Linked DNA regions of Homo sapiens: regions 2 and 3 are each reported to be linked to region 1. The links are microRNA targets in miRTarBase. Many come from high-throughput screens and were not tested one by one. Region 1 holds a microRNA gene; each other region holds the end of a gene's coding sequence.
What was found. Region 1 holds the annotated microRNA hsa-miR-548aw (GUGCAAAAGUCAUCACGGUU, at 1,097-1,116, shown strand). A microRNA usually pairs through its seed, bases 2 to 8, with sites in the 3' UTR of a target mRNA and lowers its output. Matches are read on the target gene's strand: a 7mer-m8 pairs with bases 2 to 8, a 7mer-A1 pairs with bases 2 to 7 and ends in A, and an 8mer does both.

Region 2: miRTarBase lists RAVER2 as a target of hsa-miR-548aw. Seed matches in the 3' UTR shown: 8mer at 706-713.
Region 3: miRTarBase lists RAB8B as a target of hsa-miR-548aw. Seed matches in the 3' UTR shown: 7mer-m8 at 177-183.

Annotation. Positions count from the first base shown.
Region 1 is chr9:132,944,618-132,947,784 of GRCh38, forward strand. It overlaps MIR548AW (microRNA 548aw), which reads left to right and starts at 1,090; the gene lies at 1,090-1,154. It also overlaps a transcript of TSC1 not described here and a transcript of GFI1B not described here. RefSeq lists enhancers at 1-604, 1-216, 577-716 and a silencer at 317-396.
Region 2 is chr1:64,830,466-64,833,632 of GRCh38, reverse strand. It overlaps RAVER2 (ribonucleoprotein, PTB binding 2), which reads right to left. Exons shown (of 12, transcript NM_001366165.2): 12 at 401-2,794. The coding sequence ends at 2,648. It overlaps JAK1 (Janus kinase 1), which reads left to right. Exons shown (of 25, transcript NM_002227.4): 25 at 1-404. Among named protein-coding and RNA genes, the nearest start is that of RAVER2, 87 kb to the right of the region's middle.
Region 3 is chr15:63,263,203-63,266,369 of GRCh38, reverse strand. It overlaps RAB8B (RAB8B, member RAS oncogene family), which reads right to left. Exons shown (of 8, transcript NM_016530.3): 8 at 1-2,843. The coding sequence ends at 2,751. Among named protein-coding and RNA genes, the nearest start is that of APH1B, 13 kb to the left of the region's middle.

The DNA.
Region 1 (3,167 bases):
GCACCTCCCCCGTCGTGAAAGGGCCAAGGCCGACGGCGGCCTCCGCCACGAAAAAGAGTCCCCCTCCGGACCTCCCCTCCTTCTCGAAAGGAAGGATAGACGGCCGCGCTCGGCAGCCCCGCCGGAAGGAAGAGGCTCTTCCACTCATAACTGACGATGTGGGTTGGACGAGAAAAAAAGTAAGGAGGGTTTTTATGGAGGGGGGCGGGGCCGGGCGGAAGGATCCGAAAGGAGGCTGCGAAGAGATCTTGTGACTCCGCGAAGGAGGCAAAAAGAAGGGCCGGCGCGGCGGGAGGAGCCACGCGAGAGCCCGAGGGGGCGGGGCGGGCGGTCACGTGACTGGCGGGCGGGGGGACGCGGCGGAGAGGCGTAAACAAGCTGGCGGCGCCTGGGTGTGGTTGGAGCGCCCTGCCCCTGCCCCCCGAGTCGTTTCTGCCCTTCGCTTGCGTGGCGCCCTCCGAGGGTCTCTCTGTGGGCGGCCTCAGAGCAGCGATCCTGTTTCCCAAGGAGCTGCTGGGGCCCGCGTGGGTGAAGGGCCTGCTTGGGAGCTTTGGAGTTGCAGCTCACCTGGGAAGGGGCGGAAAGCTGCGGGCCAGGGCAGCCCTCCTTCCTGGGCTAAACATTTTCAGAAGCCCGCCTCCGGGATTGCGGGGGACCCCCCTGGCTTCTGCCTTCAAGTAGCTCACACTTCACACCTACTCATGACATCTAGGGGAAACCAGCCCTAATAGGAGACAGCTTGAAAATCAGAACGCCTTATTCCGTTTCCTGCTGAAACAAGGCTTTAAGTCCTCCAAGCCTCAGTTTCTTCCTCTGTGAAATGGGCATAATGACATCTGTGACGTGAAGAATCAAGGAGATGAAGTATGGACAGCGTTTAGCCCAGAGTCCTGCGCCTAGTAAATGCTCACTCACTAGATAGGTGGCCTTTATTGCGAGGCTGAGTATGATGGGCTCCATCCAGCACGAACACAAAGCCCTGTGAGAGGAGGCAGAGTGAGATGAAGTCGAACTGTGGGATATGAAAGGCATTTTGAAGGAGTAGGCATCAGGTTGGGTTTTAAAGGAAATGTAGGTTTTGTGAAATACTAGGTCGGTGCAAAAGTCATCACGGTTTTTACCATTAAAACCGCGATGACTTTTGCATCAACCTAATAGAACCAGGCGAGGCGGCTCGGGAGAGAAGGCCATTCCAGGCAGAGGGAACCAAAGGAGCAAGAGCCTAGGGGCAAAAAAGTGTTGGGTGAGTTATGGGAATAACAGGTTTTGTCATGGGAACCAATTGGGTCACAGTGCAAGGCAGCCATGGTTAAGGGGGGCCAGGTGTGTGAGTAGCCAGCACCGTGGGTGCCTTCAGAATTCTGAAAAGGCCCTGGATGGTATCGGGTAGAGCCGCTGCTAGTCAGTATAGGGCCTTGGTGAGAATTAGAAAAATGGCACCCCTGGGCTGTATTTTGGCCCCTATCCACCAGCCCCAAACCCTCCTGGGCCCTTGAGCAGTGAACAACCTTTATAACCATACGTCTAGAGCCACGAAGGCTTAGGAGGGAGGTGAAAATTGAACTGATGATTCCTCTGTTCTAACACAGTCGCTGGGGGGAAGCTAAGAGTTCTAGATTCAAACAGACCAGAGTTTGAATGTAGGTTTCAGCCATCATGTTCTAACTGGATGAGCCTTAGTCTCCTCACCTGCAACATAGGGCTAATAATAATGCTAGTTCATGGGGATTTGGGGTGAAGTCAGTGAGTCATTAAGCTCTAAGTGGCACAGAGCCTACTCCAGTTAATGTTATTTTTGATAACTGTTAAGTGCCAGCTGTCAGCATCCATCACTTCCAGAAACGGGTCCACCAAACACTAAATTCTTCTGTGTCACCACCCAAGCATAGTCTGCATGGGGTCCAGAGATGGAAAGGTCGAGGGAAACGGGGAAGGGTCTGGGTTCTCTCAGTTCCACCAATCTGCAAACTACTTTACAGGAACAGACTCTTCCCTTTGCATTCACACCAGGGAAGGGATTCAAGATTTCTGAAATCTTCAGAGATTTCTGAGACCACCAGTGATGGGAGACCTAAGGAGGAGGGCAGGGGGAGCAGCACTGCTCTGGAGCTCTGACCCAGGAAGCCCCCCCACACCCTGACCTTCCTTGGCTCCATGACCTCATCCTGCAGGAATGCATTCTGCCATGGAGGAGAGCAGCCATAAGCAGAGCTCATCAACTGCTCACTTTCCAGGGGGCCATAACCACATTGTCACTGTTTCTACACTGTCTGGAAGAAGAATGGGCATTGTTACCTCAATATGGGACCACCAGGGGCTTGCAAGAAGAGGCTGAAGGTGACAGGCAGAGACAGCTCTACTACCATCTCCTGCCACTTACCAGGCTGGGCCACCTAGATGTTTTCTGCTTCTCTGGGGTTGATTTTTGTCATTTGCTCAACAGACACTATTCAGACCACTACCTTCCATACACCACCCTGGAGCCTCCCTGTGACGGGGCTTCCTGACCGGCCTGTCTGAGCATGAAAGGGCTGAGCCCTCCATAGGCGGGCGTGCTGACAGGATGCACGTGGTGGAGGACATCTGCTGCATTTGGCTGTGTGACATCTCCCCCTCGCCTTCTGAACAGGTGAACCGCCCATCCTCAATTCTTTCAGTGCTGATGGTCCTCACAATCACAGTACCAGCCCCAGGCCACAGCAGGTGGACCAGGCCTGGCCAATCTGAGATGCCCATCATGGAGCTTGTTAAAAGAAAGCTTAAGACAAGTTCAATTAGATTAAATTTAATCGAGCAAAAAAAAAAAAAAAAAAGAAAGAAAAAGAGAATTCATGAATCAGGCAGCCTCTAGAATCAACAGATTCAGAGAGACTCCCGGGGTCAGAACAAATTTATAGACAAAGTAAAGTGGCCTGGCGCAGTAGCTCACTTCTGTAATCCTAGCAATTTGGGAGGCCAAGGCAGGTAGATGGCTTGAGGTCAGGAGTTCGAGACCAGCCTGGCCAACATGGTGAAACCCTGTCTCTACTAAAAATACAAAAATTAGCCAGGCGTGGTGGCGGGTACCTATAATCCAAGCTACTCAGGAGGCTGAGGCAGGAGAATCACTTGAACCTGGGAGGCAGAGGTTGTAGTGAGCTGAGATTGTGCCACTGCATTCCAGCCTG
Region 2 (3,167 bases), not on the chromosome of region 1:
CTACAAGGGTTGATCCCTGTTTTTACCATCAATCATCACCCTGTGGTGCAACACTTGAAAGACCCGGCTAGAGGCACTATGGACTTCAGGATCCACTAGACAGTTTTCAGTTTGCTTGGAGGTAGCTGGGTAATCAAAAATGTTTAGTCATTGATTCAATGTGAACGATTACGGTCTTTATGACCAAGAGTCTGAAAATCTTTTTGTTATGCTGTTTAGTATTCGTTTGATATTGTTACTTTTCACCTGTTGAGCCCAAATTCAGGATTGGTTCAGTGGCAGCAATGAAGTTGCCATTTAAATTTGTTCATAGCCTACATCACCAAGGTCTCTGTGTCAAACCTGTGGCCACTCTATATGCACTTTGTTTACTCTTTATACAAATAAATATACTAAAGACTTTACATGCATATGCCTTTTAATATTAAGATTTCATTTTCAAAGCATTTCAAACAATTTGCTTACATAGAAAAATAACAGTATAGTTTTGGGGGGAGGAAGGGGTGGGTTACGGTCCTTACTACTAACAAACAAACAAACACCACTTGATTTGCACTTCTTCACTGTTGTGCCCAGTGATTGATAACGGGGCACAGGCCAGTATGGATGGCATGTCCACTGTGCTGTAGTCCAGACACCTTTGTTTGTTTGTTTTAGTTCCTTCAACCTCTTCCTGCTTTGACTGACTGACTTTTTGCAGCTCTGTTGCAAAATTCACCATCTTTCCTTTCTTCTGTTTGTTTGTTTGTTTGTACTATAGTGGAGGTGTGACTAAGCATTGAAGAGGCTGAATGCAACAGGAAAATGGGAAAGAGAAGTGCAGGGCCTGAAAAACCCATTAGTCATCTGCTATATCACTGAATGATGCCTAATTCTTATCAGTTACTTATAGGTAGTATACTTAGAAATTACCTTAAACTTTCTAGCTGTCAGTCATTTTCCAACAGAAGCTAGTATATGCAATAAATTAGACCAAGTGAAATTCTTTACAAAGCATACAACATATGTACCAATTCTAGACTTCATAATTAAAACAGGATATCCACATCATAGTTAAAAATAACAAGTCCCCAAAGTGACGAGATATTTAATGATCTGATTTCAAAAAGCCCCGGATTGAGATCCCAAATTCCCTATCAATTAATTACAGTCTTATAACATAAACAAACTTAGAAATTTCTAGATGGCAAAAGGTTTCTCATGCATTTAATACCAAGGTCTTCAAGAAATGGTGATGTCAAAAGTCATCATAGTCCATAAAGATAAAACTTCTTTCACAAGTAAATTGGGTTAAATAACTGATTTTTCACCCTAACACACTATCAAAAAGAGTGAGAGAGAAAGCAGAGAGTGAGGTATAGCTTATTAGCTCAAAATGGTTATAAATACTGTGACTCCTTAAGACTCCATCAGAAAGTGCAGTATTGACTGCTTTACTATACTATATTGTGGAAATAATAGGGCATTTAGTGATCAAAATAGGCCCCATTCTAGTCATTAGATCATTACTAGTCTACGCTATGAAATGAGCACAGAAACCCATGTTCCTTTCCACTTACAAGTCTGTCTAAAGGCTAAAGGTCTGTCTTTAGGTGAATTGAAAGGAATAGTTGCTATTAGAATTAGTGCTATTAGATCAGGGATCAGCAAACTATATATAAATGGCCAGATACTTGAAATTTTAGGCCATATGGTCTTTGTAGGCCATACAGTCTCTGTTGAAGCTAATCAGTTCTGCCCTTGTAGCGTAAGAGTGCCACAGACAACACGTAAATGAATGAGCATGGCAACGTCCCAATAAAAGTTTATTTATGGACACTGAAATCTGAATTTCATATAAATTTCATGTCATAAGTTTTCTTTTTTCCTCCAACCATTTAAAAATGTAAACATTAGTCTTAGCTTGCAGGCAGCACAAAAGCGGGTGGTAGACCAAATGTGGACCCAGGGTGTAGTTTGCCAAACCCTTTTATTAGATCACCAAAGTTACTTTTCTTAAAATACCTTCTATTTTTCACAGAAGGTATAAATGGTAAACAACATCTTAAAGCATCGGTAGTAGTGGATACCTTGGATATCACTGTCACTCTCTTACCGGGTTTAATTTTGCATGGCTGGTGTGGGCGTAATTGAGTGTGCATGTAGAGCATCTTTATAATATTACCATCAGCACATTTGGTACTTGCACCCTTGTAGTTCTAGGAAAAGTCCTAAAAATCTATAAATGCAATTACTTCTAGGGAAAGTAAATTGAAATGCACATTGGCTTATAAGAAACTCATTCTTCTAAGGCTCAGGAAACAACACTGTTTCCCATTTATTGCTTCAAACTTCTTTTATATATGGTGTCAGAATTATTCCCAGTCCTAAATCAAGGAATATTGGAACATTGTTAGTTTCTCCAATGGATTGTAAGTTAGCACACTGATTAAGATGCATCTGACTCTAGTGGAAAATGTCCTCAATTGATGTCTCTTCTTATTGCTATTTTTTATTTGGCATTTCTGCCTGCTGCACAACACAGTTCCTTCTGGGAAACTATAAACCCGTATTTAAAGGATATGGCTAGTTTGAATGAAGTTAAGGCAGCGATGAACAGCAGAGATACTGCAGAGAACCTTAGGGGGTTATTAGGAGAGAGCTTAACTCAGTATACTCGCTTCTTTTTTAAGTAAGTTTCCATGTAATATGCTCCTGTGCCCTGAGAATGCTGGTCAACACATTCCACTGAACCACCTTCTGGGGCAGAGATGAGATATGATGAGCCTCGCTTTTCATTTCTTAAAGATGACACCTATGAGAAAATAAAATTGCAGCTAGTTTTAAAATCTAAAGTTGGCTTATTCATTAAAGATATTTATAAGAAAAGCATTCCACTTTGACTTGGTGAATATAGAATAACAGGATAAATACCCAAACTATCAAAAAATACACAAACCCCTTTGTTAAATAAGACTTTTAAATTTCTGTATCAACATCGCCTTTGGAATTTCTGCAAGACACAAACCAGTCTCAGCACCTTCACTCCCAACCCCAACTTTTTGGGAAAAGAAAAAATTAGAGCACTGCATGCAGCTGCTTCTGCTGATCACAGCTAGTTAAACCCACGGACTCAGAATATCAACACCGAATGTCAGTATTCCTCTGAAGGAGGAGTGGCTAAGACA
Region 3 (3,167 bases), not on the chromosome of region 1:
GCTAAAATAAGTTCCCAGCGAAACGTTTTACAATCAACTGATTTACATGCTACTTAGTTACAGCACATTTTCACTGTCTGATACCCTCAGACTCTATTTGAAAAGGTCTAGTCCAATCACTGTCAAAAATTAACACACTGATTAATAAAGTGCAGCCACTGAACCACTAATACTGCTGCAAAAATCTTCATGTACCTTATCCATAAGACCACAAAAATGTTCACAAAAAAACTAGATTTCTTCAGTTTCAGCGGGGAACAGACAATTATCTGTCATTAAATTCATCTACAAATAGAAAAAATAATGCACTGTATGTACATTATTAAGCAAAGTGGAATATTTATTGGGTCATTTTATCATGCAGAAAGTGAATTTCCTAAGGTCTTAGCTCAATGTATATACAATCTAGCAAAGCTAAATGTAAGAAAATAGCAAGGACAATTTATTTCTATATAACAGAGCATATACTCCCAATTTGCTGCTACTTCAAAGAGCACTTTTAGACTCATCTAACTTTTACAGGCTCTTTCAAGTGAAGTTCATGGAGACTAGTTATTAATCCATATAAGACAAAAGAAGAAAGAAGAAATATAACCAAAGCAAAGCATTCTGTTAAAAAAAAAAGTAATAAAAGCTAACCACAGAATATGTCAGTTTTGGTTTGCAGACAACCCCTGAGATTATATAAACCAAAGCGTTAAGACACCAAATAGTCAGAGGTAAATTACTAAGAGAATTACATTCATACATGGTGTCATAGCACTTATCTTTTAGAAGGTACTTTGTTACCATCCAGAAAGCGTTAACTGCTTGGATTTTTTCAGGAAATAGTGAATATTAAGATGTTTCTAAAAAATTATCTTTTCCTTTTGAAAATGTATCTAATTTGAAGATAGTAGAATTACAATAAACTTTCAATCACGGAACTACTAATTATACTAGAACAGCAACGAATGACTTTTAAGCCTATAGGTAATTACCAAAAAAAAAAAAATTAAGGAGGCTGAAATTTGTCAACAATAAGTTTAGTATATCTATTAAAAATAGCTTGGGCATATTTGCAGCTGCTAAATTGTTCCTATATTTTCAAATAAGTACAAAAGATTGACTGGTCCAAGCATTCTAATGACATATCTTAATTTGAAGAGAATTCTCTGTGGTAACAAGCAATCCCTTTCCACTGCCATCTCCTGTTCTTATCTATCCAGCATGATAGTAGCCTTTGTGAAGCAAAACAGGCATACCAGGAAGAATAATTATTAACAGAATTCATTTCCCTCATCCCCTCTGTTTTATCCCCCCTGTGTTATGACACTGAAGGCTAGAGCAACAACGACATAGTGATCTGAATTTGGCACACAAGTTAACACTAAATACCTTGTGATGGTTTCATCTACAAAAGTATACCAGTACCAGTGTTTGTTGAGAAAGGCAACTAAGCTTTTGGTTGGCTTTAGCCCAAATGACTGGACTAAGTTCTGTAACAATGAACCAAAACAGATGGAACTGGGTTCTACACAATCAACAACAGCTGTTTGAAAACTGAAACCTTGGTCCTGTTTTCTCTAATGAAAAGGCAAGACTTTTCCTAGAGGCTGCACTAGGTCTAAGTACTTTTATTTCTAAAAACATCTGCCAAATAAAACCAACCAAAACTCATTATTTTCACCATTACCAAGAGCTAGCTCTATTAAATTTATATCAACAAGTTAATCTGTCTCTATATAGGGAAGGTTTCCGCAAACTAAAATCTAAACCTAACTTTTGTAGACAGGGATTATGGTAGGAATTTGGTATTACAACTAAACCAGCCAGCTAAGGAGTGAACCTAAGAAAAAATATATTACATATCCTTATTGACAGAATCACAGTTAGATGCTGCACTAAAACCCTAAATGGTATATCTCTCAGCCCACGTAAAATTTCAGCTCAAGAAGTTCACAAATAGAAACAGATAATAATGTTCAAATATTACTTAAGAGTGATTACACTTAAGTCAAACATGGGAAAGAATAGCAAATACAAACCCCAGGGAAAAATGAGATTATGGTGATTTCCAAATGCAGTTTCTATAGATTAGGCAGAGGTAATCATTTTAAAGTGATTCATTCAGCTACCCAGACTCTGGAAAACAGGTCGGGGATGAGGCAAAGCTCTTAATCTGAAGAAATAAAGAAATTGTGGCCTTTGATGACAAGATGGGCATTTCAGTAAATTTTTTTAATGACTTTAATGATTCTTATTTAAGAAAAAGCCCTTAAATAAATGCTACCAAGGCAGTAATATTTGACCATATGAACCAGACCAAATACCCTTTAATTTTAGTATATTAACCTCTGCTGTAAATGCTCTTTTAACATTGCCACATGTACAAATTTGTCTAGAACTTCACGACACAAAAGTGTGCAAATATGAGTCTAAGATTGTGCTGAAATAGGGAAAGGCTAACACTGATGTGCAAAGTAAAAAAGAAAGATAACCGCTTCTGCAACAGGTAATAAAACAAGGAAAAAACGAGTTAGGTCCTGCATGTGTCTCCACTTCATTGCTTCCATGTTTGAAAAAGGGAGTCTGTTCTTTTGCTAGGCCATGAGGCTGGAATCCACTTGGCATACTGTGTTGAGAGGTCTAAGTTCAGTGGTGCTCTCAGCAGCAGCCGGGAGGTGTGATTCTGAGGCTGGGTGACCTGTGCTTTCAGAGAAGCAGGAAAGGGCCCTCTAGGTGTGCTGCAGTCTCTCAGAAAGAGTTCATCAAAGTAGCGAGCAACGAAAGAAACTGGTCTTCTTTGATCGGTTTTCTGTTATTTTCACTGGTCCACCTGCTCCTGCTGAATTGCTGTCATTCTAAAAAATAGAAGATGAAGTTACCAAGGAAATAAAAGTTTCATGGTTTGACCTCAGTTACCTAAAAAATAAAAATAACTAACCATACCATGTGAAATGTGTATTCTAGTGAAATGTGTATTCACTAGAGTATTTTATTAGAACGGGAACTAGTTAAGCACCAATGTTGTCTTTTTCTTTGGAAATGGTGAATTGAAAAGAGGAAAATGCCCTTACGATAGCAGCTTTTATATCAATAATGTATTCAATAGGAAGCTTCTATTTCTAGTTCCAATGGAGTGTAAAGTTTCAAAGGTAATGATGGAAACAATGTTAAGATACTGG